4 linked regions of the Homo sapiens genome follow. The protein of the gene in region 3 interacts with the protein of the main gene of each other region in a pairwise test. Each region holds a gene or a part of one and is shown on either strand. Other genes may lie near its edges.

What was found.
Region 1: the proteins of CNNM3 (region 3) and AKAP8L interact in binary tests that used the Homo sapiens proteins (3 or more experiments, as listed by UniProt).
Region 2: the proteins of CNNM3 (region 3) and MTUS2 interact in binary tests that used the Homo sapiens proteins (3 or more experiments, as listed by UniProt).
Region 4: the proteins of CNNM3 (region 3) and KRTAP9-8 interact in binary tests that used the Homo sapiens proteins (3 or more experiments, as listed by UniProt).

What each region holds. Positions count from the first base shown.
Region 1 is NC_000019.10:15,401,981-15,409,011, reverse strand, and holds part of AKAP8L (A-kinase anchor protein 8-like), read left to right. Parts: intron 1-4,969; coding exon 4,970-5,002; intron 5,003-5,296; coding exon 5,297-5,537; intron 5,538-7,031. UniProt on the Homo sapiens protein: Could play a role in constitutive transport element (CTE)-mediated gene expression by association with DHX9. Increases CTE-dependent nuclear unspliced mRNA export.
Region 2 is NC_000013.11:29,026,333-29,033,363, reverse strand, and holds part of MTUS2 (microtubule-associated tumor suppressor candidate 2), read right to left. Parts: coding exon 6,461-7,031; intron 1-6,460. UniProt on the Homo sapiens protein: Binds microtubules. Together with MAPRE1 may target the microtubule depolymerase KIF2C to the plus-end of microtubules. May regulate the dynamics of microtubules at their growing distal tip.
Region 3 is NC_000002.12:96,826,237-96,833,267, forward strand, and holds part of CNNM3 (metal transporter CNNM3 isoform 1 precursor), read left to right. Parts: intron 1-596; coding exon 597-746; intron 747-1,494; coding exon 1,495-1,664; intron 1,665-1,862; coding exon 1,863-1,959; intron 1,960-2,330; coding exon 2,331-2,464; intron 2,465-2,759; coding exon 2,760-2,898; coding exon of another isoform or gene 2,899-3,056; exon of another isoform or gene 3,057-5,732; coding exon of another isoform or gene 5,733-5,782; exon of another isoform or gene 5,783-6,315; coding exon 6,316-6,380; 3' UTR 6,381-7,031. UniProt on the Homo sapiens protein: Probable metal transporter.
Region 4 is NC_000017.11:41,234,146-41,239,504, reverse strand, and holds KRTAP9-8 (keratin-associated protein 9-8), read right to left. Parts: upstream 1,507-5,359; 5' UTR 1,454-1,506; coding exon 974-1,453; 3' UTR 501-973; downstream 1-500. UniProt on the Homo sapiens protein: In the hair cortex, hair keratin intermediate filaments are embedded in an interfilamentous matrix, consisting of hair keratin-associated proteins (KRTAP), which are essential for the formation of a rigid and resistant hair shaft through their extensive disulfide bond cross-linking with abundant cysteine residues of hair keratins.

The sequences.
Region 1 (7,031 bases), on a different chromosome or scaffold from region 3:
AATTTTTCTACAAGGTGTGCAGTATAGGTTAAGGTTTCTTATTCTTCTATGGCATATAAATATATAATTGTTCCAGCACCATTTGTTTAAAAAACAAAAACAAAAACAAAACCATTTTTTCTTTCTTTTTTTTTTTTTTTGAGACAGAGTCTCACTCTGTCCCCCAGGCTGGAGTGCAGTGGCGCGATCTCAGCTCACTGCAAGCTCCGCCTCCTGGGTTCATGCCATTCTCCCGCTTCAGCCTCCCGAGCAGTTGCCCGCCACCACGCCTGGCTAATCTTTTTGTATTTTCAGTAGAGACGGGGTTTCACCGTATTTGCCAGGATGTTCTCGAGCTCCTGACCTCGTGATCCTCCCGCCTCGGCCTCCCAAAGTGTTGGGATTACAGGCGTGAGCCACCGCGCCCGGCCTCTTTCTTTCTTTCTTTCTTTCTTTTTTTTTTTTTTTTGAGATGGAGTTTCGCTCTTGTTGCCCAGGCTGGAGTGCAATGGCGCGATCTCAGCTCACCACAACCTCCACCTCCCAGATTCAAGCTATTCTTGTGCCTTGGCCTCCCAAATAGCTGGTATTACAGGCATGTGCCACCACGCCTGGCTAATTTTTGTATTATTAGTAGAGACGGTTTCACCACATTGGCCAGGCTGGTCTTGAATTCCCCATCTCAGGTGATCCACCCGCCTTGGCCTCCCAAAGTGCTAGGATTACAGGTGTGAGCCACTGTGCCAGGCCTATATTTTCTCTATTGAATTGCCTTCGTACCTTTACTGAAAATCAGTTGACCATATACTGTGGGTCTATTTCTGGACTCTTGGACTCTCATTCTGTTCCATTGGTCTGTACATCTAAATTTCGTTCAGCAGCACGGTCTTTTTGTATTTTTAGTAGAGACTGGTTTCACCATGTTGGCCAGGCTGGTCTCAAACTCCCGACCTCACATGATCCACCTGCCTCGGCCTCCCAAAGTGTTGGAATTACAGGCATTAGCCACTGCGCCTCGCCCAGCAATGCAGTCTTGATTACTGGTTAATAGTAATCTTGAAATATGAGTCCTCCAGGTTTGTTCTTTTTTCCAAAATTGTTAGTTTCTTTGCTTTTGCATATAAATTTTAGAATCAGTTTATGAAGTTTTTTAAAAAATTCATGCTGAGATTTTGAGTGAGAGAGCCTTGGATCTATAGATCTATCAAATCTGTAGAATCTATAGATTAGTTTGAGAAAATTGACATCTTAACAATATCAAGTCTTCTGATTCATGAGTGCAGTATGTCACTTCACTGATGTAGTGTTTTGTAGTTTTCAACACAGATCCTACACATACTTTGTTAGATTTACGCCAAGTTTTTCATGCTTTTAGTGCTATAGGAAATGGTACTTTTAAAAACTTTCCATTCATTGCTGATATATAGAAATTTGATTGCTATTTGATTTGTAGGTTTACCTTGTAATATTTGAAATTTGACTTACAGATTGACCTTGTAATAAACCTTGCTAAGCTCACTTATTCTAGTAGCTCTTTTGTAGATTTGTTTGAGATTTTTTTACATACACAATTGTGAAAGAATAGAGATGGATTTATTTTTCCTTCTGGCTTGAATTGCAAGAACAATATAACATTTAAATAACATTTTGAAAAACAGTCAACCAAGATCCTACCATATTAATGTTTAATTTTTATCAGCTTACTGATTTTGTGTAGTTTAATAATTTATAGGTGGATAGAATTGTGGGTACTGCTCTTATTTTATTTTATTTTTTTAAGATATGATCTCACTCTGTCCCCCAGGCTGGAGCACAGTGGCACAATTTCAGCTCACTGCAACCTCCACCTCCTGGGCACAGATAGCCCTCCCACCTCAGCCTCCTGCATAATTGGGACTACAGGCATGCCCTACCATGCCCAGCTATTTTTTGTATTTTTTCTAGAGATGGGGTTTTGCTATGTTGCCCAGGCTGGTCTCAAACTCCTGGGCTCAAGCGATCTGCCTGCCCCACTTCCCAAAAGGATTACAGGTGTGAGCCACTGCGCCTGGCTGGTCCTGCTTTATTTTATGTTAGAAGCATTTCCTTGTGCCACATAAGGCATAGTAAATTCTTTTTATATGCTTACATGATATGTCACCGAGTAGGTAGGTGTAATCTGATTAACTATTACGTTAAAGTTGAGTGTTAAATTGTTTTCTATTTTTGGTCCATAAATATCACATACTGTGACCATGTCCTTTTTTCTTTTAAAAATTATGTCCTTGGGGCCAGGTGCAGTGGCTCATGCCTATAATCTCAGCACTCTGAGAGGCTGAGATGGGAGGCTTGAGCCCCCAGGAGTTTGAGACCAGCCTGGGCAACATAGTAAAACCCTATCTCTACAAAAATAGAAAAAATTAGCTGGGCATGGTGGCACATGCCTGTTGTCCCAGCCACTCCGGAGGCTGAGGCAGAAGAGTCACTTGAACCCAAGAAGTCGAGGATGCAGTGAGCTGTGATCACACCATTACACTCCAGCCTGGAGGACAGAGCAAGACTCTATCTCAAAAATATATATGTACATATATCTTATTTTTACATATATATGTATATATTTAATAATAATAAATATATAAATTTTAAGGATCTCTCTCTCTCTCTCTCTCTCTCTCTCTCTCTCTCTCTCTCCTTAAAATTTCTTTTGTCAACCATGATCTCATCCCTTCTGGGGATGGAAATGAGTTGGGGTGTTCTTTCAGAAAGGGCAGGTCTTGGGGAGTCCCTAAACGCCAGTCTAGATGAAGGCTTCCTCCTGAAGGGACCCAGCTGGGATGTCCATCAAGGAGTCTGGGTTGCTCCAGGCATAGCAAGTGGCATGTAGTGAGTGTTTGCCTGGAGGGACTCCTGAGAGTTGCCCATCGTGGGAGGCCCTGCTTGTCCTTAAAACGTAAAGTGGTGTTCACGGAGTTGATGCTGCTTCCTTTCGTTGTGCCTCCTCACTCTGTTGTGGCAGATCCTCAGCAGGTGAAGCTTGCAGTGACCACATTGTAGCCTCCCAAGCAGAGCCCTGATGGATCTGCTTTTGCCTCCATATCCTATTTTCTTTTTCTTTTCTTTCTTTTTTTTTTTGAGACAGAGTCTCGCTCGGTCGCCTAGCCTGTAGTGCAGTGGTGCAATCTTGGCTCGCTGCAACCTCCACCTCCCAGGTTCAAGTGATTCTCCTGCCTCAGCCTCCCAAGCATCTGAGACCATAGACGCGCACCACCACACCTGGCTAATTTTTGTATTTTTAGTAGAGATGAGGTTTCACCATATTGGCCAGGCTGGTCTCGAACTCCTGACCTCGTAATCCACCCACCTTGGCCTCCCAAAGTTCTGGGATTACAGGCATGAGCCACCACGCCCAACTCCTATTTTCTTTAGAATAGCTAGTGCCCACTGTCCCTGGTACAAACAGTCACTTGGCCAGGTGTACAGTAGCTGCCTGGGCTACCTGTGTGTTGTTCTATTTTTTTTTTTTTGAAATGGAGTTTCACCGTGTCGCCCAGGCTGGAGTGCAGTGGCGCGATCTCACCTCACTGCAAACTCTGCCGCCTGGGTTCAAGCAACTGTGCCTCAGCCTCCTGAGTAGCTGGGACTACAGGTGTGCACCACCACGCCTGGCTAATTTTGTATTTTTGGTAGAGAAGGGGTTTCACCATGTTGGCCAGGCTGGTTTCAAACTCCTGACCTCAGGTGATCCGCCCGCCTCGACCTCCCGAAGTGCTGGGATTACAGGCGTGAGCCACTGCACCCAGCCTTGTGTGTTTTTCTTTATGTGGCTCTGCCAGCCTCTCTTGCCTCTTAGAATGGCTCCATTCTTTCCTCAGCTACCACTCCTGACTTACCCATGCTGCTCTCTGGCTGTTAGCATCTCTCTTACCAACAGGCAGATCTCCATGCCTGAGCAGTGCCTGGGACTGCAAGCCTCTGTTCCCTGTGCTCAGGGGATACATAAACAAATGGATGAGAAGCCTGTTTTGGTTTCTCCAGCCCAAGAGTTTTTGTTTTGTGAGCTCTCTTGTTAAACATAGTGGTCATCAGCAGTTCCTCAGCTTCTCTCTGATTTCTTCCCATTCTTTTTGTGCACTGGGTCGTGGAGGAACCCAAGTGCAGGACGACAGCCTGCCTGTTCTCTCTGGCTCATCTTTTCAGTTGACTTACACTCTTCCTGCTGTGGTCTGGCTTCTGCCACTTATTGCCCTGCTGTCTGTCTCACTGAGCTTCGGTCCCCTGCCCTGGGATGAGCATGTCCTCTGCGGGGCAGAGATGACATGGAATGGGAAACAACTGTTGGGTCTCACCAGAGACCCAGGGAAAGGGGTCACCTGCTCTGTGCCCTCCTTTGGGGAGGAACTGTGTGTTTGACTCAGAGTTCCCAGGGGACTTTACACTTTGTCACTTCTCAGTGGCTTTATGTTACTGAAGGAATGAGGTTTTATCATGTGTTGTGATTGAATCCAGAGCATATTAAGTTGATAATCCAGATTGTTCTCTCCACAGCTTTTCTCAAGCGAGGGGTTGCTTCTTGGGCTTCTCTCACTGATGTGTTCCAGCACAGCACAGTCAACAATTCAAGGGCTTGTTGGCCCTCCCTTTTAAGGCAGACTCTTGGGAGACTGGGGTTGGGTTTTCTGCTATAAACTGATTAGCACTTAGCTTGGGGTGTGGAGGTCACCTTCTAATTCTGGCTCTTAAAGGGAGGAGTATAGGAGCCAAGTTCCTTAGTTGAGAGTGTTGGGAACAGAAGGATCCTTAAATAACAGATGCTCAGAGCCACAGGCAGCCAGGCACCAGGGCAGCAAGTGGCCTGGGTCATTTGCGCAGTGCTCGCGAGCTCAAGGCTTCTCGGTTAGGGGAGGTGCAGCCTGCTCTGACCAGTCAGGTCCTGGGAATAATTGTCTGCGCCTGAATTATGGCCTTGTATTGTAAGCAAGTATAGATGTAACTGCCCTTTTACTTTTTGTAGGATATGGAACTTGGAACTCTGGGACAAATAGAGGCAAGTGTCATTCCTGTGATTGCTGTCCTGTCCCTTGGGGTTGTCCTGGCTGTGTTTCTCTGCCACTGCCCTGCTTGGCCAAGGTTGGGAGTGGGGAGGGGGCATGTTTCTGGGGTTACCTACTCCTTAACAGGAGGCCCTCATCAGAATGACCAGGGCCCATCTAGCTTCAGTGGCTAGGGTCTTCTCTCTCTGTGACAGAAGATACCCTTGTATCTGTGTTTGTCTCTGTCTCTGTCTGCCTCCCCTCTGCCTGCCCCCACCATCTGTCTGTCTCTGTCTCCCTCACTGCAGGCTACGAGGGCTATGGCTATGGCTATGGCTATGGCCAGGATAACACCACCAACTATGGGTATGGTATGGCCACTTCACACTCTTGGGAAATGCCTAGCTCTGACACAAATGCAAACACTAGTGCCTCGGGTAGCGCCAGTGCCGATTCCGTTTTATCCAGAATTAACCAGCGCTTAGATATGGTGCCGCATTTGGAGACAGACATGATGCAAGGAGGCGTGTACGGCTCAGGTGGAGAAAGGTGAGTGGACACCTGCCTAGGGGTTGAGACTCTGCAGGGGCGGCTCCTGCCTGCTGCCCACTGCGTTTTCCTCTCTGAGTGCCCCTCTGTGTCTGCTTCCTCCCCGCTGCTTGGTGCTGCTGTGGCTCCCAGCAGGGTCCGTTGCACTTCCCGTCTCTGACTTGTGTCTCCTCTCACCCACCCTCAACCCCTGCCGCACTGCCTGGTGGTCAGCCTTTCCCAGCTTGCGGTGAGAGGAACAAGCCCAGACTGGGCAGACTTCACTGTGCCCTCAAAAACAGAGTGTTCAGCCACCCCTCCCTCCAAGGACAGCCATTTGGAATTCTCTCGAGACTTTGCCTCCTGCGTGGTGTCAGGGCAGGACAGATGGAGTTTGGTGTGAAGGGTGGGACGAGCGTTTGGGGCTGATCACTGCGAGCTGGGCCACCCCCACGTAAGGGTCGGGGCAGGTGTGGGCATTTCCTGGTTACTCTCCTGTGCCTTACAAACATGTACCTGATGGAAGCACTCCTGTGAGGAACTGCTGCTGTCCTCATTTTGCAGGTGGGGATACAGAAGTGCAGGCAGGTCATACCCTGAAGGCACGCAGCAAGTACTTGGTGGGGCTGGGCCTCGCCTACCAGATCTGCCCTACTCCAAAGCATCATGCTGTGGGCATTTGTTATTAACTGAACTGGACTTGGCCCAGGAGTGCTTATGCCCAGTGCGAGGCTTTGGTGAGGAGCGTGGGTGTATCTCTAACATGGGATAGAGTGGAGCACCAGCTAACAGATGAGTGAGAGCCAAGAGTAAGGAGTTGCCTGGCTGAGCACTGATAGGGCCAAGGGAGGCCCCAGGGCTGTGGTGGCAGGGTGTGGAACAGGCACAAGGGGATTTGATGCCATGGGCTCTGTAACTCCTGGCCCAACAGCTGCAGCACTCAGAGCTGAGGGCTTGGCATGTGAGGCTTGGCCTTGCGTTGCTGCTATGCACCTTCTTACCACAGCCTGGAGCCTGGGATCGGGGTAAGCAGAGCAGCGGCAGCACCAACTGCTGCTCTTAGAGCTGCCGGTGCCTCTTGGTGGCCCAGGTTTAGGGAAGAGTGTGCAAGGGGAGCCCCTGTGCCTGTGAGGTGTGTGGGGTCCAGGCCTGTAGGGGTGTGGGCTGCGGGCTGCAGTCACGGTTAAAAGAGCTCTCTGCGGTGCCCTCTGTGTCCTGGGAGGAGGTCTGGCCTGCCTTCCCAGTTGCAATACAGGGTATATAGAGTTTGGTGTCTGGCTCTGGGCTCCAGGGTTGATGTAATACAGCTCTTTTTCTTGTCCCTGGGCAAGCTCTCAGTGTCTTCCCTGGGAAATACTCCCCCTTTTGTCTCAGTTGTTTTGGTAATGAGGGACTTTGCAGAGTTTGAAGGTTCCCCAGCCATGAGGGACAAGAACAGTGTTTCCCATGGGTATCATCAGCCTCACTGGCTGCGCATTCATTGTGCTGGACCTGCCTGCATCCTGCAGGGTGCTG
Region 2 (7,031 bases), on a different chromosome or scaffold from region 3:
AAAAATAGGGAAGTTAATGGAAAATGTATTTTCAGATCTGTACTATGTGTTTACCTAGTTAAAAACCTGAGCCTGAGTTATCTCCTCTGGTCGTCTGCTCGAGTGAGGCGATGCTCCCAGGAAGGTTTGAGCAAGTTTCACCAGAATGGAAGTTCTAGGGCACAATCTCATCAACCGCTGACTTCATAGCACCAAAAACAATGTCTAGCACATAGCTAAAGTCAATAAATATTTATTGAAGAATCATGTTTCCATTTTTTCCTAAGTTTAATAATAACATAACGTTACTGTCACTTTCTCCTGTAGCTAGCAGTTTGGCCTAGAATACAACCTGTGGGCAGTACCTTTTATATATGCAATTCTGTACTCACTAAGTCTGTTCATATTATCAGTGTTTTATTAATATTAAACAGGAAAAAAAGAGAGAGAACTAAATAAACTATTCCTTTAAGTTACAATAAAAAATAGTGCTAAGGGCCATGCATGAAAAGATACATCTGTTAATTAACTCTGTTCTAAATCACAGCACATTTTATGTGTCAAACTTATATCTCAGGAATCATAAGCATTTAACAGTATTCTTTAATGGGGGCTATAAAAGCTTTGATCCAAGCTGTTGAAGAGATAAACCCTTAAATTGATACTCATTTAATGTTGAAATAGATACAAAGTCCTCCTTCAAATTGACATTGTAGAAACAAAAGATTAGGCCTTTAAAGTTTTATCATAATCACACTGTAAAATATGCATGACTGTTATAGTAGATAGTCCTTGGCTATAGCAAATTATATTCCTATGAAAGAACATTCTACATCTGCACTCTGATAAATTTTTTACCATTCTCTACTTACTCTCACTATCAATCTCTGGTTTTTCTCATATATACCCTTTTTTAATTTTAGTTTCTAAATTTTGGGTCCCATTGCACATTGCTTTGAGCAGGTGCTCTTATGAAGAAATTAATATCATTTCCAAACTACATCTGTCAGGTTTTAGGATTGCAATATGCTGATCTTAGTAGTTACTCAGTGCCTTGAAACTGAGTTGTTTTTAGGGATTAAAATTCACCACATTCTCTCTCAACAATGATCTTAAGGATTTCAGTAACTTCAATGCCTGTCATTTTGTTGGGTAATTTGTTTCTGGTGAGATCGCAAATTCTTTAAAAGGGGGAAAACTGCGCCTTTGATGTCTAGTCTGTGCATTTTTAATTAAACAAGGGAATCTACAGAAAGCTTCATACTCTTTTCCTTCATCTTTACTGACAGAATACAGCAGGTGATGCTGCACAGTCATAAAACAACGTTTGGAAACCCCAAACGTTGCTGTTCCCCTCCCTCCATCCCAATGGAGGGTTTTTAGAGAACTCACTTTGAAAGCAAACAAAAGAACCCTATGATTTCAAACAAACTCGTTAAGTCAAGGCATATGAACAAATACATTCTTACCAGGCTGTCCCTCTTCCTATTTGCCCTGCACTGTCCTCAATGGGATAGTGTGCCGTGGAGACAGAGGGTACAGGTGAAGGCTTTGTTAACAAGCCACTGGGATAGTGGTGGGGGAAGGGTGTCTGGGATGGTTAATTTTATGTGTCAACTTGGTGGGGTTGCAATACCCAGATATTTGGTCAAGCATTCTAGATGCTGCCATGAAAGTATTTCTTATATTAGATTAACATTTAAATCAGCAGACCTTGAATAAAGCAGCAGACCCTTCAGCATGTAGGTGAGTCTCATCTAATCAGTTGCAGGGTTTAATAAAAACAGACTGACTCCTCCTAAAGAAAAGGGGATTCTGCTAGTAGATCACCTTCAGACCCAAGCTGCAGCACCAACTCTACCCTAAGTCTCCAGGCTGCTGTCCTGCCCTGCAGATTTTTGACTTGCCAGCCTCTACAATCATGAGCCAATTTCTTAAAATCAATCAGTCAATCAATCTCTCTCTATATATATATATAGAGATTATGTGATGTACCCTCTCTATATATACATCTATATCTGTCTCTACATATGAGATATATATATTGAAACATATATAGATAATATATATTGAGAGACATAAGTATAGATGAATATAGACCTGTGAACACACACCACACACACACACACACACACACACACACACACCTATTAGTTCTATTTGTCTGGCAAACCCCAATCGATGCAGTGCCCCCCAGAGATGAGTGGCAGCAGACAGTGAGGAAGGAGAGCAGCCCTGGATCACACCTCTGTACACTGCACGCACATCGCCTCACTCCATCCTCTCAGCCAAGCCCCTTTCTTCCCACCTCCCTTTACCAAAAATAAAAAGGGCTCCCAAGTTGTTGGAGGGAGGGAGTGTCCCTGAGACCTCAGGAGAGCCAGTGGCAGAGGGCACCTGTTTAGGTAAACATATTTAATACCTGGACATGACTAGATCCCAGATGATCTTGGAAGCCACTTCTGGAAGTTTTAAATGCCTGTGCTGTTCCTGCCAATTGGGAAAAGAGTTCCTCTCTCAGAAGAGTGCTTACTCTTGATTTTTCCACTTCTACCCATGCTATGTAACCAGCAGGGATCTGTCGATAAGGATGGAAGAGTCTGAAGCTGGTTTGAGTTTTTATTTTTAAGAGGTTCTCATTTTATTTAAAAAAAAATCTGGCTTCTATAACTGAAAAATACTTCCATTGCAACACATTATCAAAAATGTGTTCTTTTCCTAGAGACCAGACTGCAGCCACCCCATGATGAGCTTGGGGCACACTGGCAGAAGAAGTCGGCTGTTTTTTCTCCCTGCACTGAGCTCAAACACAAGAGGGGGACTCGCTGGGTTACATCATGTCATAGCTGTAGCAGGTGGCCAAGGACCAGCCTGTTCCCCACTTTTGAGTAAAGAAGGTTACCACAGAAATGAGCCCAGCGCAACCTGAGAAGAGGCCTGGGTCTCGTTCTGATGATGGCAGAAAATGGTCCCCAGATACAGGGAGGGAAACTGACATTTCAAACGAACTTGTAAAGTCGAGGCCCAAAAACAAATAAATTCTTTGAAGAAGACTTTGGGATGCTCGAGGTGCGAGGCCATGATGCTCTCTCCACACCAGTGGGGTCTCTCTGAACCCCTCAGAACCGCCAAAGCCACACAATGTCCATACAATCCCATTTCCTTGAGTCTTGACGTGGTGCCTAGATAATGAAGTAGAGAAAATAGTTTGGGGAAAACTATGCATGTAATATATAAACTATTCTTGGAGGAAGCAGAACAACACAGAAAAGAAATATACACGAAAATATAGAAGGGCACAAAGAAAGAATTACAGACAATGTGGGGTTTGGGCCTACATATCCAAATCAATTTCCCTCATGAGTTTGTTTTTATAGAGAAAAATCTAGGCTCTGGCTATGGTTTGGATATGGTTGGCTTGTCTGTGCCAACTCTTATGTTGAAATGTGATCTCCAATGTTGGAGGTGGGGTCTAGTGGGAGGTGTGTGGGCCATGGGGGCAGATGCCTCATGAATGGCTTGGTGCCCTCCTTTTGGTAATGAGCAAGTTCTTGCTCTATTAGTTCCCATGAGAGCTGGTCCTTAAAGAGAGGCCTGGCACCTCCTCCACTCCCCTCTTGCTCATCTCTCACCACGTGATCAATGCACACGTGGTTCCCCTTCTTCTTCCCCCTTGAGTGGAAGCAGCCTGAGGCCTCACCATAGGCAGATGCTGGTGCCATGCTTCCTCTCCAGCCTGCAGAACCATGAGCCAAATAAACCTCTTTTCCTTATAATTTACCCAGCCTCAGGTATTCTTTCATAGCAACACAAATGGACTGACAGGTCTCTTCATGGAACCTCTGCAGTGATTCCCTGCCTTATAGAAGAGCAAAGCTTCAGAGCCTGACCCTGAGCCTCAGAGGCCCAGGTGGATGAATGTTTAGAAATTTGAAAATGACTCACTATAACTAAACTCAGAGACTGACGTAAAAATCCAGAAGGGCAATTTGTTCACTTTTAATTGGAGACCACTGCCTAAAGCCAGACTCAAGTGTCCTCTAGCCAGAACACGTTCTCATTGCAGGGCACAGAGTAAGAAGCCACTTATAAACAAGATGCCATGCAGCCCCGCACAGCAAGACAAACCCCTGCCAAGCTGACTGGACCCCTGAATTCTCCAGCCAGAATCCTCTCTCTAGAGATGTGAGGTAGGAAGTCCGTTATAATCAGAGGCCTGTTGGCAGGCCCAGAGTCAGAACACAGGGAGCAAGCTGTGTGATTTGGTTGCTAAGGACCTGCGGCAAGGCAGCACAGCTGGTCGGCTTGTTGGGGCACCTCGTCAGTGATTGCCTAAGTCAATGTCTGCTGCCGAGAATGGATTCAACTTTGTCTTTGTGCTAGATATGACAACTTCTGTTGTGATTGATGCATTCTTTAAATATGCCAATATATCTAACCAAGCTAGAGTCCAAATTTGGACTCAATCATCCTATCTCTAGAAACCCTTGGTACACTTTTGTTTAGTTCCAACACATATGGAGTTCATGATTCAGTTATCACTCAACATTTTTTGAGCACATACTTATAAGAAGCACCATTCTAAATTCTGGGAACACGGGGAACAAAATATTGAAAACAATCCCTTCCCTCATGGAGTTTACATTATAGTCAATTCAGGAAAACTAAAAAAGTATTTATGGCAGGTGGAGGTAGGTGCTAGGAAGAAATAAATCAGAGAAAAGGGATTCAGAGAGAAGATGGGTGGCCTTCCCAAGGAGATAACATTGGAACACAGACCTAAAGGGAGTGAGGGAGAGAGCCATCTGGATAACTGGGAGAACATTCCAAGCAGAGGGAGGTGCAAAGGTCCTGAAGCAGCAGAGTGAGAAAGGGAGAGTGGAAGGAGAGGAGGGCAGGTAGCTGACGGACCCCCAGTGAGCACATCCCATCCTAAAGGCAGAGCCATCCTACAGGCTCCAGCTTGTGTTCCAAGCAACCTGGGCAGCCCTGGAAGGTGTTAGAGACAGGATGATCTCATCCTGCCCTTGTTTTTGAGACTGAGTCGCGCTCTGTTGCCAGGCTGAAGTGCAGTGGCGTGGTCTCAGCTCACTGCAACCTCCACATCCTGGGTTCGAGCAATTCTCCTGCCTCAGCCTCCCCAGTTCCTGGGACTACAGGCACATGCCACCACACCCAGCTAGTTTTTGTATTTTTAGTAGAGACGGGGTTTCACCATGTTGGCCAGGATGGTCTCGATCTCCTGACCTTGTGATCTGCCCATCTCGGCTTCCCAAATGCTGGGATTACAGGTGTGAGCCGCTGTCCTTGGCTCCTGCCTTACTTTTAACTGATCACTCAGCTGTCATGAAGAGACTCCTTCAGGAGACAAATCTTAGTTCTGAGGTCTCGAAGGATGACTCACCATAGCTAAAAAGGACAGCACAGTGCAGTCTGAAACTGCACAGGCCTGAGTGAGACTCTCAGAGCTCTCCTTCCTTTGTGGTGGGTGACTTAAAGCTCTCTGTCTGTCTCTGTATCTATACGGTGATAAAAACTGCAATACCGGCTGGGCGCGGTGGCTCACGCCTGTAATCCCAGCACTTTGGGAGGCCGAGGTAGGCGGATCACGAGGTCAGGAGATCAAGACCACGGTGAAACCCCATCTCTACTAAAAATACAAAAAAGTAGCCAGGCGCGGTGGCGGGCGCCTGTAGTCCCAGGTACTAGGGAAGCTGAGGCAGGAGGATGGCGTGAACCCAGAAAGTGGAGTTTCCAGTGAGCCGAGATCGCGCCACTGCACTCAAGCCTGGGCGACAGAGCGAGACTTCATCTCAAAAACAAAGAAAAAGCCAAAAAAAACATAAACAAACAAAAAACTGCAATACCAACCCTCAGGGAATTACTGCAAGGATTAGTGAAGATTAACAAAGATCAAACGCTGTATTATATGGGCCCAGTGTAGAGCTGGCCCTCAATTATATGTTAGTTGTAATTATTACTTTTATTTTAAAGAAAGAGTCCATGCCTAACACACCGTTTTCTGCTCATTTGCTGTTCTTCACGCATGCGAATAAGAGATACTCCCAGGTAGAAAATACTCCCCATTGAGGAATGAGTCTGATCTATTTGAAGAACACAGTAATTTTGCATTCTTTCTTCCTTTAACCTGGCTTATATTATATTATATTCACTTATTTAAACATGGAAGCCTATTTAAGGCATACTCATCTAATTTCATATGAATTATAGCAAGTGAAATTTAAATGGGTCTCCTTAGATATTGGGTACATCTTATTAAGATAATCAGACTCTTCTAGTTAAAAATGGTCATTTCTCTAGACAATCTCCTCTAGTCAAAAACTCCATTTCTTCACAAGTGTATCCATGAAAATCTGTAATTCACTTAAAGAGGACATTTTACTTTCATAACTCATTGAAAATATGTCACAGATATTGGGACAGTCAACTTATAGACCATATCATAATGACATTCTCTTACCTCCTGCAAAAACTTTTCACTCATTTGACTGAAAGGATGTCCCGGGGGCTTGATTCCAGACACCATCAATCCGGAACTGAAGACCCTTGGCTTCTGCAGGTCTGGCTTGAATTTCTCATAGAGGTTGGCAGATGGCTTCAGGTCACCACCTGCTGCCTTCTCTTCGTGGGGAAGAGGCATGGTACATGTGGGCGGGGCATATGGAAGCCCCACTGGAACCAGCGAGGCGTCCACCTGGCCCAGGGCCTGGGGATTCCTCCTGATGTAGGTGATGATCTTGGGCCTCACATGCTTGGGCTTGGGCATAATGATGGGCTTAGTTTCTGTCCTCTCCTCTGTTTTTTCAACCTGATAGTTCTCCATTCCCTCCTGCGAGGAAGGTGTGTCCTTGGAATGTGTGAAGACAGGCTTGGGGATCCCACTGGGGCAAGTGTTCTTGTCAGGCACTTTGGGGGACGTGTTCAACAAGCGTGCACTATCAGTAGGGGGTGGAACTACCAAGGGGGACCCCGCATCCATACCGAACACGCTAACATCCTGAAAACTGCTACTGGGTGTTGTAGGCTGGTAG
Region 3 (7,031 bases):
CGGTCTTGCTCTGTCATCCAGGCTGGAGTACAGTGGCGCATTCATGGCTTACTGCAGCCTCAACTTCCCAGACTCAAGTGTTCCTCCCACCTCAGCCTCCTGAGCAGTTGGGACTACAGGCGCATGCCACCACACCCGTCTAATTATTTTATTTTTTTGTAAAGACACGGTCTCTCTATGTTGCCTAGGCTGGTGTTGAACTTCTGGCCTTAAGTGATCCTCCCGCCTCAGCCTCCTAAAGTGCTAGGGTTACAGGTGTGAATCACTACATCTGGCCTAAATTTAAAAAAGTTTTTAGTCTACATCCAGTGACCTATCAGGGATGCTTGTTATTTTATACAAGCTGCTTTGTTATCATATCAGCATTCTCTTCAGCCAGCTCCAAGGCAGATAGTCACCCCTCTCTCTGTGTGGTTGGGGTGGGAGCAGGCCCCGTGGAGGGAGCGGTGCTGAGGACATGTCCCTGGCGTTCCGATGCTGCTCCATCGAGGACCCCCTGGCCTCAGGAGGAAGGAGCAGGCGATGCAGCCCCTTAGTGTGGTCGTGTTGACTGACAGGTGGCTGATGCCTGAGCGCGCCCTCTTCTTCCATCTTAGGAGACACCGTGGTGAAGAGGAAGCCTGCTTCTCTGATGGCCCCTCTGAAGCGGAAGGAGGAGTTCTCCTTGTTCAAGGTGTCTGATGATGAATATAAAGTAACAATCTCGCCTCAGCTGCTCTTGGCCACCCAGCGCTTCCTGTCCCGAGGTGAGGCGGGAGGGTGGTCCATGCCCCCTGCTCTCCTCACCGTTCTGTGGGTCAGGAGGCCGCCCAGGGCCGACACTGACTCTGCTCCCCACTCCTAGCAGGCGGGTGCGTCTTGAGGACTTCTGTGTTCTCTGCAGCCCTGCCAGCATCTTGGGTCATGGGAGAGACACCTCCTCTCTGCCAGATGACCAAGAGCAGGGCCAGGCCAGTGCCACGCCTGGTGCACCACAGCCAGGGGGCCTCAGCTCTCAGCTGGGCGGATGTGGGGTGCCCTGCCCAGTTCTTTTTTTTTTTTTTTTTTTAAAGATAGGGTCTCGCTCTGTCACCCAGGCTGGAGTGCAGTGGCACGATGTTGGCTCACTGCAACCTCCGCCTTCTGGGTTCAAGTGATTCTCCTGCCTCAGCCTCCCAAGTAGCTGGGATTACAGGCGTGTATCACCACGCCCAGCTAATTTTTGTATTTTTAGTAGAGGCGGGGTTTTGCCATATTGGCCAGGCTGGTCTCCAACTCCTGACTGCAGGTGATCCACCTGCCTCAGCCTCCGAAAGTGTTGGGATTACAGGCGTGAGCCACCGCACCTGGCCCCTGCCTAGTTCTCTTGTGTTGAGGTGTTAGGGGCAGCTGCTCACAGGCCACCCGGGAGATCCCTGGTGGGCACAATAACTTTAAATTGCCTACAGTGTTGGGTGTGGTTCCACTGGCCACTAGGCCCCAGTGGACACTGTCCCTTTTTTCCACCACGTGCAGAAGTGGATGTATTCAGCCCGCTGCGCATCTCTGAGAAGGTCCTGCTGCACCTGTTGAAGCATCCCAGTGTCAACCAGGAAGTGAGGTTTGACGAGAGCAACCGGCTGGCCACACACCACTACCTGTACCAGCGCAGCCAGCCGGTGGATTACTTCATTCTCATCCTGCAGGTAGCTGTGGGTCCCAGGCCTGGAGTCCCTCCTGCTTCCTCAGGCCAGGGAAGGGTCTAGGAGAAGAGGGGAGCAGGGGCATGCGGATATGCACCCTCCCACCCCAAACAATTGAGGTGGTGGGTTTCTCCTTCCGCTGTCTTCTGACGGGAAAGGTAATCTGGCCGCATCTGTTTCTCTCCTTGCCACTCCTCCCAGGGCAGGGTTGAAGTGGAGATCGGGAAAGAGGGTCTGAAGTTTGAGAATGGGGCCTTCACGTACTATGGAGTGTCGGCCCTAACTGTGCCATCCTCGGGTAAGCCACGGCCCTGCTGATGCTGAGGGCCAGGGTGGAGGCTGCAGAGCCTGTCCCCCATCATCACTTGGGCTCTCAGTGCCCCTCCTCACCTCTCCTTCCACCTGAGCCCACCACCCCACAAGGTGGTGTAGCCCCTGGGCTTCCAGGAGGGAGGGCAGCATTCTTCATCGCTCAACTTTGTGGCCCACTCCACCCCTGCAAAACCTCTCCCGGCTGTGTTTGTCCTTCTCTCCCAGCTTCCCATGCACATTGCCTCTCCAGAGTGATTGGTGGGGTGGGTCTTCGAAACTGTACAGTTGTCCCCACCAGGGGAGGAGGCTCCCAGCTGCCAGCATGGCTCCTGCCATCACTGATTGTTCCTTTGATAGTTCACCAGTCCCCGGTGTCCTCGCTCCAGCCCATCCGCCATGACCTGCAGCCCGACCCAGGTGACGGCACGCATTCATCTGCGTATTGTCCCGACTACACCGTGAGGGCGCTCTCTGATCTGCAGCTCATCAAGGTGACTGCCTGGGCTGCTTGTGGGTGCTGGCTTTAGCCGACTTTGTGTCACCGGGGGCTAGACCAGCTGGTCTGAGACTGCCCGGAACAAGGCCTTCCACTCATCCTGAGGGACACAGACCTTTGCACCCAGTTTCCAAGCAAGGTCTTAAAAACACTTGACTCAGTTGCTCTTCTCTGCCCTTAACTAGCTTAAAGTTGTGCCTCTGTCCTCTTCGGGCACGGTGTCACCTTTCCTGCCTACCTTCTGCATCTCGCTTCACCAATTGGGTCCCAGTAACGCTGTCATCCTCCAGGTTACGCGACTGCAGTACCTCAATGCACTCCTGGCTACCCGAGCCCAGAACCTGCCACAGTCCCCTGAGAACACCGACCTGCAGGTTATTCCAGGCAGCCAGACCAGGCTCCTTGGTGAGAAGACCACCACAGCGGCAGGTGAGTGCCAAGTGGTACATCGTGCATGGTGTCTGGACCTGAGGGCCGTGAGCTCACACACACAGACTTGCACTCTCGCCGCCCCCCCACCCTCTGTCTTTTTTCTCTCTTTTCTCCCCATCCTTTTCCCTTCTTTATATATATATATCTATATATAAATAATTTTTTTTTTTTTTGAGATGGAGTCTTACTCTGTTGCTCTGTTGCCCAGGCTGGAGTACAATGGTGTGATCTCGGCTCACTGCAACCTCCGGCTCCTGGGTTCAAGCAGTTCTCCTGTCTCAGACTCCTGAGTAGCTGGGAATACAGGCGCCCACGACCACGCCTGGCCAATTTTTGTATTTTTAGTAGAGATGGGGTTTCACCATGTTGGCCAGGCTGGTCTTGAACTCCTGACCTCAGATGATCCGCCTGCCTCACCTTCCCAAAGTGCTGGGATTACAGGCATGAACCACTGTGCCCAACCCCCTTCTTGCTTTTTTTTTTTTTAATTCATTATTCAACTTGAACTTCTTGCTGTCTTTAATAGCATGGATGACACCAAACTATAGACTAACTGGTATTTAGAGTAGAGTATAGTAAGTCGGTATTTCTCTCAAGGACGTCTTAGAATGGATTGACTTAATCAGAGATTTGTTGGGAAGTGGGAATAAGTTTTAGTTCAGACACTCTTTTGGCCATTTAAGATTAAGTTTAGGTCACTTTGAGTCAGCAGTGGCCCTGGCTTAGAGGGTGTGTGGCTGGCAGACACCATCCTAGACACTAGAAGGGCATTTGTGAAGAGTTTGGTCAGTTCATACTAATATTTAAGCGTGGCCCATCCAGTGCTCCACTGCGAGCAGGAAGATTGTGTTGGAAGAAATTTTGCAAATCGAACTAAAGGTTGTGGGATATGGAACCCCATCCCCACACTGCAAGGAGGGAGGTGAAAGAGTCTGAAGTGTAGGCTGTGGGTAGGAGTGGTGAAGGGTTTCTTGTTCTTGTTTTTCAAGAAGATACTTTAATTCTGATTGCGTTCCTAAGGTTGGGGTCAGAGATATGCCTGAACTTGAGATTCCTGGAAGAGCTGGTGGGGCTGTGGAGGGAGCTGCAGGCTTGCCTCCTCCCACCCCCACCTGCCCCACCACGAGGAAGACAAGCTGTTATCAGCACTTCCTCTGCCAGGCACTGTGCTAGGAGCTTCCATGTCTAACTCTGCTAACCTCCCCGTGGCCAGAGGGCTGCTAGCTGTTCTGCCTGTTCTACAGGGCAGGAATGAGAGCCAGAGAGAAGGCCCAGGGACTCTGACCTGCTTCCTGTAGGCCTCCCGTGGAGCCACTGTGGCTGCTCAGACCCACACTCGAGAGCACAAACATGTTTTTCTAATAGTCCTTTCTGAATTGTGAGGTCACATGCAGGTGCAAGGGACAGAAATCCCACCCTGGGCCATGTGGATGCTTCAGCCCCTGTGGGCTCCAGATCTGGGTGTTGGCAAAAAGGCAGCGGGTGAGGTCGTGCTGCTTAAGTCTTGGATCTGGGGATGGGTTGCATCTCTTCCTAAAGAGATCTCTCTAAGGATGGTGCTGCACTTTTTTTTAAGAGATAAGGTCTTGCCATGGTGCCCAGGCTGGCTTCATACTCTGGGCTCAAGTGATCCTCCTGCCTCAGCCTCCAAAGTAGCTGGACGAGTAGCTAGTGCCGCACCTTTTAGGGTTGTTGAGGCTTCTGTGCTTACCCACTGTGATGGTTTCTTATTGTATGGGGTGCCCCTTCTACAGAAGTTCACATTGTCACATTACACTGGGGTCTCAGAGGCCAAGGTTTTAAAAATGGGAGTCTTTTGGTTTTGGTTCTCCCACATGTGAGCCTTTTTCTGGCTCACTGCTACTCAGACTGCACGTGTTGTAGTGAAGATACAGACCTAATCCCAAAATAATGCTCTTCCCATCACTGCACACCCGGAGATTTTTAAATAATCTTCACTGGGCCGTCCTGTAAGAGAATAGTTGATAGTGGCTTTGTGGGTCATTTCCTCTTTGTAATGGATTATTCTCTAGACACAATGTTGGTTATTTTCACTTAAGTACAACCTGACAGTTGCTTCAGTGAGGCTGGCCTGCTGTCTTTCTGTTTCTTGCCTGAACTCGGGTTGTCCTGCATTTTGTCCCGTGAGCTTGGCACTTCACTGTCCGGAGGAGCGTAGGGCCGCTGCACACCTGGAGATTTTGGTGGGGCACTGCTTAAATCATGCAGATGAGAACCAGTTTCTGGAGACCTTGGCACTAGACGCCCAGCAGAGAAGTGCCTTTTTTGAGACTTGGAAGACACAATAATTTTAAATTGCCTACAGCAGGGGTTGGCAAATAGTGGTGCAAGGGCCACATCTGGCTAGCAGCCTATTTTTGAGAATGAAGTTTTATGAGAACCCACACATCTGTTTGTAGATTGCTATGGCTGCCTTTGAGTTACAGCAGTGGAGCTGAGTAGCTGTGACAGAGACTATATGACCTACAAAAACTAAAAATATTGGTCCTTTACAGAAAAAGTTGTCTGACCCCTGGCCTACTATTTCAAATCCTGGGTAGGTCCTCCACGTCAGTTCTTCATGGAACTGTATTGCCGAGGGAAAGGCAGTCCCCACACTGTGCAGCCCTCCATGCTGTGCTCCTGGCTTTCTCTGCCATCCTGAGCCGCAGGCTGTGGGGCAGCGCAGCACCAGCACTGCAGCTGCCAGCTCTCCCTCAGCTTCCCCTGCCCGGGGCACCGGCCCTCTCCATGGTGCTGCCCGGAGCCAAGAGGCACAACCATTTCTGCTCAATAGCTTCTCCTCTTCTTTCTCTCTCTGCTCTCTTTAGCCTTCCCAGTAGACCTTTCCCTCTTTGGCACAGTTGGAAACTGCAGTTGATAAATGACTGTGGACTAGTGCGCGTTTTTTGTTTTCAGAGCACACGTAAGGTAAATATCTTCCCTCTCCCTGCCCCTTCACTTCCCTTTCCTGGCCCTTCAGCTGAGGGAGGAGCAGAGCCCATGGCTCCCCAGGCTGGGGGGCATTTTTCTCCAGGGGTGTGGGGTGGGCGCTCCCTTCCATCCTTCTGGAAGACAGGAGGGGTCATGAGACTCCTCCACTGTGGAAAATGGTGCTTCCTTCCAGCACAGGGTGCTGTATCGTCCCGGGAAGGTGCCTCTTGTTCAGCATAATGACCTGGGACCCTCGGGGCCAGAAATCCACAGCCCCAGCTTCCCCGTCTCCCAGGGAAGGCATCTGTTGGCTGACCATCTGCTAACCAGTCGCTCCTGTTTCTGCTCTGATACTTCCCAAGGCATCCCGAAGCACCTGTCTTAGCTGCCCCTTCCTGTCCCACAGAGGATTTGGCACTTGGTTTTGACAGGATACTTTACCAGCTTTGATGTTAATTCTCCTTCCCTTGTCTCCTGTAGGGTCCAGCCACAGCAGGCCCGGCGTCCCGGTGGAAGGCAGCCCTGGGCGGAACCCAGGCGTTTAACGGCTCACTAGGCAGCCCCAGATCTGGGGAACAGATGAGCACGTGGGGAGCTGGAGTGAGCTGAGCAGAAGTTTTGTGCCCGCCTGCCCCCATCCCCTCCAGGCCACGTTTTAGATGGCCCTTGTAGTTGCGGGTCCTGGGTGTCCTCAGAACTAGACATCAATGCCTGGATCCTTCAGCCGGCCCTGCCCTCCTTTAGGAGACAGGAGTCACCAGGGCACAGCCCTCCAGGCCCGCCTCAGGAAGGAATGAAAGGAATGCCATCATCTCTAGTTCCCAGGGCCCAGCCTTCCCCTTCTCCCCCGGGGCAGGGACAGTGCGGCATATTCAGATTCAGACCTCTTTGGGCTGAGCCACCTTGTGAGTGCAGTTACTGCCTTTGTGTGGCCGTGACCTCTATTTGTTTGCTTTTAATTTGCCAACCTATCGCTGCTGGCAGCACTTTTTGAGCAAGCCGAGAGCACCCATTTTGGCTGGGGGTTCAGATCGATGGCCTTGTCCATGTTGTCCTTTCTGGCTTCCCTGATGGTGTCATGTTTCAGCGCATGCGCCCCAGCCTTTCCCATGTGCCAAACCAGAAGCTCCACTGCCCGTAGGCTGTCCCTGTAGCCCTGCTCCCTCCCTGGAGGCTGCTCTTCTGATTCTGAGAGC
Region 4 (5,359 bases), on a different chromosome or scaffold from region 3:
CAAGCATTTTTTGATGCAGATGAATTGAATGAATGACTGGTCAGAGGATGAGACAAAAAGAGATCCCTGCTTTCAGGGCAGCCATTAAATGCAGTCCCTGCTGCCATATCATGCAGCTGTTGCTCACTGAGGTGTGGGAAACTTATTTGGGAAAACTTTTTTGTGAACAAAAATGTTATCTGCAAATATAAGAGATCATTCCTCTCATTGTTAAATAAACTCAAGTGCATGTCTTGCTAGTGCTGACTTCCAATGTCATTTCTACTATGTTGAGAGTTAAATGTAAGTGTCCTTGGGCAGAAAGAGAGGACCTCAGCTTGGATCAGAATCTGTCCTTTATTAGCTACATAACATCACATATTAATTTTTTTTCAGGTGAAAAATGAAGGTAATAATGCATGACCACCTGTTTTGAGAATCAAATTGGATAATAACTATGGTATGTGATATGTGTGTAAATCCCATATCAGGAGTGCTTTCAAATAAAACAAAACACTATATGAGATGAGGATGGTTCAGAATTTATTCAGAAACATATAGGTAAGGATTTCTGCTACCAGGGACACAACACAAATTTATCATGAAAAGAAGAAAGAAGGATACAAGAACGATGAGGAGGATATTGAAAACAAAAAAAAGATTGCAAAGATCATCGATCAGTTGCAGAAACCTAAATTCCTTAGAAGCAGGGAATGAAGCTCTTGACTTTAGAGTCAAAGCTGAGACCATGACTCAAACTTGAGAACAGATGAAGCTGGCACATGATCCACAAGGTGTAAGGAAAAAGAGAATCAGGATGAAGTATTCTGCCCTCCCTCAAGCAGATTTCCAAGATTTTAAACATGTAGAGAATTCATAAAAATTTGGGTGAGAGCATGGTGGCTGTCAGCAGCAAATTAAATTAGTCCCCCAAAAGATGAGTCAGTTGAGCAGAAATTTGTTGTGTGAGGATGGTGGTTCTCTTGGAACGTGATCAGCAGCAAGAAGGCTGGCAGCAGCTGGACACACAGGTGGGCTGGAAGCAAGTGGTCCTGCAGCAGGTGGTCTCACAGCAGGCTGGGCGGCAGCAGGGCTGGCAGCAGTTGGAGCCACAGCTCTGGTTTAGGCAACCAGGCAGGCAGACAGTCGTGGGGTGGTAGCAGGTTCTTCTGCAGTACACAGGTGCACAGGAGCTGCTCTGACCACAGCTGGACCCACAGCTGGTTTGGCCACAGCAGGTGGGCTGACAGCAGGGTGTGCTGCAGCAGGAAGGCTGGCAGCAGCTGGTCACACAGATGGGCTGGCAGCAGGTGTTTTGACAGCAAGTTGGGCGGCAGCAAGGCTGGCAGCAGCTGGACACACAGCAGGAGGGCTGGCAGCAGGGTGTGCTGCTGCAGGTGGTCACAGTGGTGGGCTTCCAGCAGGTGGTCCTGCAGCACGTAGGCTGACAGCAAGGGGAACAACAGTGGGTCATGGTGTCAGGGGTAGAGGGTGGAGTTCTGTTCAGAGGTGAGTTTCCCAGAATCTGATGACCCCTTGCATTCTGGACCTTTTATACACCTGGCCTCCAAAGTTTCCACCAATCAGCAGGACTTTTCCTTGTTGCTGTTTATCTTGTTTTCCACAGTCCGTTTGTGATTCTCAAAGGGTAGTTGTTTCCTTAAGGTTAAACAGATTAAGGTTTAATCTGTTTCTTAATTGTGAATTACTCATAGACACTTTGTTTGAGATAAAAGGAAGCCCGTCTCATCATCAGCATCATTCCTATTCTGACCATCATCTAGTCATGTGATAGTTCCTGTTGATCTGGGAGGCTCAGGAAGCTCTCTGGCCAGCCTCATGTTTGGCTGTATATAGACTGGGAAGTGTCTGTGGGGAGAAGCATGATGCTGATATATTTACAGTGACAAAATGAATCCATGCCTGGGCCCAAGGCTAGTCACCCACCAAATTCTGACTCAAGACTAACAGGCATCTCTCTGTACCACCCTCACCACCTGTGCCTTTCCGTTATTTGAACGTCACTTGGGAAGAGGGTGTCTGTCACAGTGTGTTCCATGTGGCAGAGCAGATCGAGAGCAGGGGGATGCAGAGAAATTCACTGGGATTTAGACAACATCAAGCAAACTATGCCCTGAGTGACCATTCATTCTGACTTGTCTGTGAGTGTGGCGATTCCAGGACGAGAATGTAGGACTCTCTATGACATAACTGCTTGAGATTCAGGCCAACCAGCATGTGCTCTGGCTCTAGCTGCAACCCAGTTACCAGCACAGTAAGCATCATGTCTTCTCTCTCTATTTCTTTTTAATGAAGGAATTAGATGAGTTGAGATGATGCCTGATTCATCATGGAGTTCTAACATGTTTAAAACATTTTCTAGGTATACCATTCATTTGAGAAAATGCAAACTATTAATTTTCAACTTGATATAGTATTATATTGTAAATACATTTATGTCCCATTACATCTATGTTAGGAAATAGAAATTAATTCCATTCTCTCCCAATTATATGCTCTTACTCTTTCCCAAAGACAGCTAATCACTCTATCAGTTGTAATCCTGTAGGTAACTTTTGGCTTTTTAAAATTTTCATGTGAATAAAAAGTATAGTATTTGCTTCTCTATTTCTTTGGCATAAACAAAAGTAATCTTTATCGCCTAGTCATTTTGGACTCTTCATATAAGCAAAGCAGCAGACAGAGAAAGTAGTTACTATTTGGTGAGGGATAATTACCCTCAAGCCATATAGTGTAGCAGAATATATCTATAGCTCAGGAGATTTACTGAGTATATTAATTTACTAGCACTGCCCTGATGAATTACTGAAAAAAAGTGGCTTAAATTTATTTATCAAAGTTCTGAAGGCCTCTTTTCTGAAATTAAGGTGTTGGCAATGTTGTTTTCATCTGAAGACTGCGAGGGAAGTATCTGTTCCAGGTCTCCCTCCCTGACGTGTCGAAGTCTATCATCTCCAAGTGTGTTTGACATAATTTTTCTATTATATCCATACTGTCTCTGAATTTCTCCCTTGTGAATAGACACAGTCATATTTAATCAGAGGCCTAATTGTTTCCAATATGACCTTGTCTTATCAGATAACATTTTAGATGGTTCTATTTGTATATGGATTTTGAGGGACGCAAATGAACCCATAACACTGCAGAATCTCATAGTGTGTCCATGCCCAGTGATAACCACAAATGAATAAAAACAGCAATCACGGTGGACAATGGTATAGTAACCAGGGGCTCAGACCCTTCAGGAAGGATGCTCTGAGCTACTCTATCAGCAGTTATCTAGACCAAAAAGAGTGCTGGCCAGGGGTGAAGGGAGAATAGAACTCTTGGTAATTAACGGAGTTTATGAAACTTAGGTGCACTGTATTATAGCAGAAGTAAGTGTAGATTATTTAATTGGCCTTCATTTTATATCTCACTTCCTCTCCTTTCTTTTCCTTTCCTTCTTCTTTCTTTCTTTCTTTTCCTTCCTTCCTTCCTTTTTCTCCCTTCCTGCCTCCCTCCCTTCCCTTCCCTTCTCTCTCTCTCTATTCTTTCTTTCTTTCTTCTTTCTTTCTTTTTTCTTTCTTTCTTTCTTTCTTTCGATCTCTTTCCTTCCTTCCTTCCTTCTTTCCTTCCTTCCTTCCTTCCTTCCTTCCTTCCTTCCTTCCTTCCTTCCTTCCTTCCTTTCCCTCCCTCGGTTCCTCCCTGCTCCCTCTTTTCCCTCCCTCCTGTCCGTCCTTCCTTCCTTCCTTCTCTCTGTCTTTCTGTTTTTCTTTCCTTCTTTTCTCTTTCCTTCTCCTCTCATCTTCTGTCCCTTCTCTTCCTCTGCTTCCTCTCTTCCTCTTCTTCTTTCTCCTAGAGCTTGTGGCTGTCCATTCTATTTAAGTAGCAAATATTTGACTTGAGTGGAGCTAGTTGTAGATCGTAGACAAGTTTTCATGACTGCACCCGTATATCTTGCATGTTAGTGTGCTTGGATCAATTTCTATCTGTCAAAATCTGCATCTCTGTGCCTAAGGGCTCTTGTATTGCAGCTGTAGAAAGTCATGCCACCTGTGAATGCAATACAGAGAAAAACACTCAACCAATGATTCTGGAGAGCTGATTTATAAAGACTCTAGCTTCCTCATTCCTGAAGTAGGATAATACCAGCTATGTGTTTTTCATCATTTCTGATAATTTTCACTTTAGTTTAAGCTTTAGTTGGTGACTGTGAAACTGACTTAATAGTGTACCCTTTTCTGTATCACTTCCCCAGTCCCTACCAGTATGATCTGCACTTCCCAGTAAACTAGTTTCACTGGAATTTTTTTTCAGAGTCTCTTCTGGGAGAAACTCATCTATGACTATACGTTAACTCAGCCTCAAATTTCTCATCTCTACAAGAGGAACATTAATACCTATTTTGAAAGTTTGTTAAATAGTTAATAATAATGTACACAAAGCATTTATCCAGTACCCATCATAGAGCAGGCAACACAGAATTAGTGTTTTTTGTTCAGAAAATTCCCAAGTTTTATGTTGAAGATAAGAATATTTTTGTATTAATTAAATAGATCAACTAAATACGTTTTTTTCTAGCTGTATTGAGGTATAATTGACAAACAAAAATTGTGTACATTTCAGGTATAGAAGGTGATGCTCTGATATATATATTGATTGTGAATAACATATTTATTAGGTCACTTAGTTACCATTTCCTTTTTATTTTTCTGGTGTGAATATTTAAGATCTACCTTCTCAGTAAATTTCAGGTATATGATAAAGTGTTTTTAACTATAGTCATATTACTGTACATTAGACCTACTGAACTTATTCATCTTTCATAACTGATGCTAGTCAAAGAGAATGTCCTAGTTTTCATCTCCTTTACTTCATCCCTGAACGATGATGACAGTAAGTGGCTGTTGTCTCTTAGCCAAGTCTTCAGAGCATTCTAGATTCACAGTCTCGGAAGTTGGCATCTGTCATGGAAATCTACATTTTTAGCTCATCAGAGGTATTTCTACCACTCCCCTGCTGGTAGGAGGCCCCAAGAAGGTGCCCCAGGTCCCCGACTTTTCAATTTCTCTCAGAGCCAGCATCAATCAATCCTTTCATGAGTGAATGGTTATCTTACATCAGTTCAGGACCCGAAGCACCAACCTCTGTCTATTATGTCTTCTATGAATGCACAAGTTCTACCTTGCTCCTTTCTTACATTCTTCTGATTTCCGTGGAAAAAGAAGTTTTTCATTTCTTTAGATTCTTCATATTGGCCTCACAAAATGTGGAAGGTTGTTTTTATTCCCTTCCTTAGCTCAGAGATTATGGGTTGTGCCAAGTCTTACATGCCCATTGCATAGTTTCTCAATTCCCAGCTTTGTTCTTACATAAT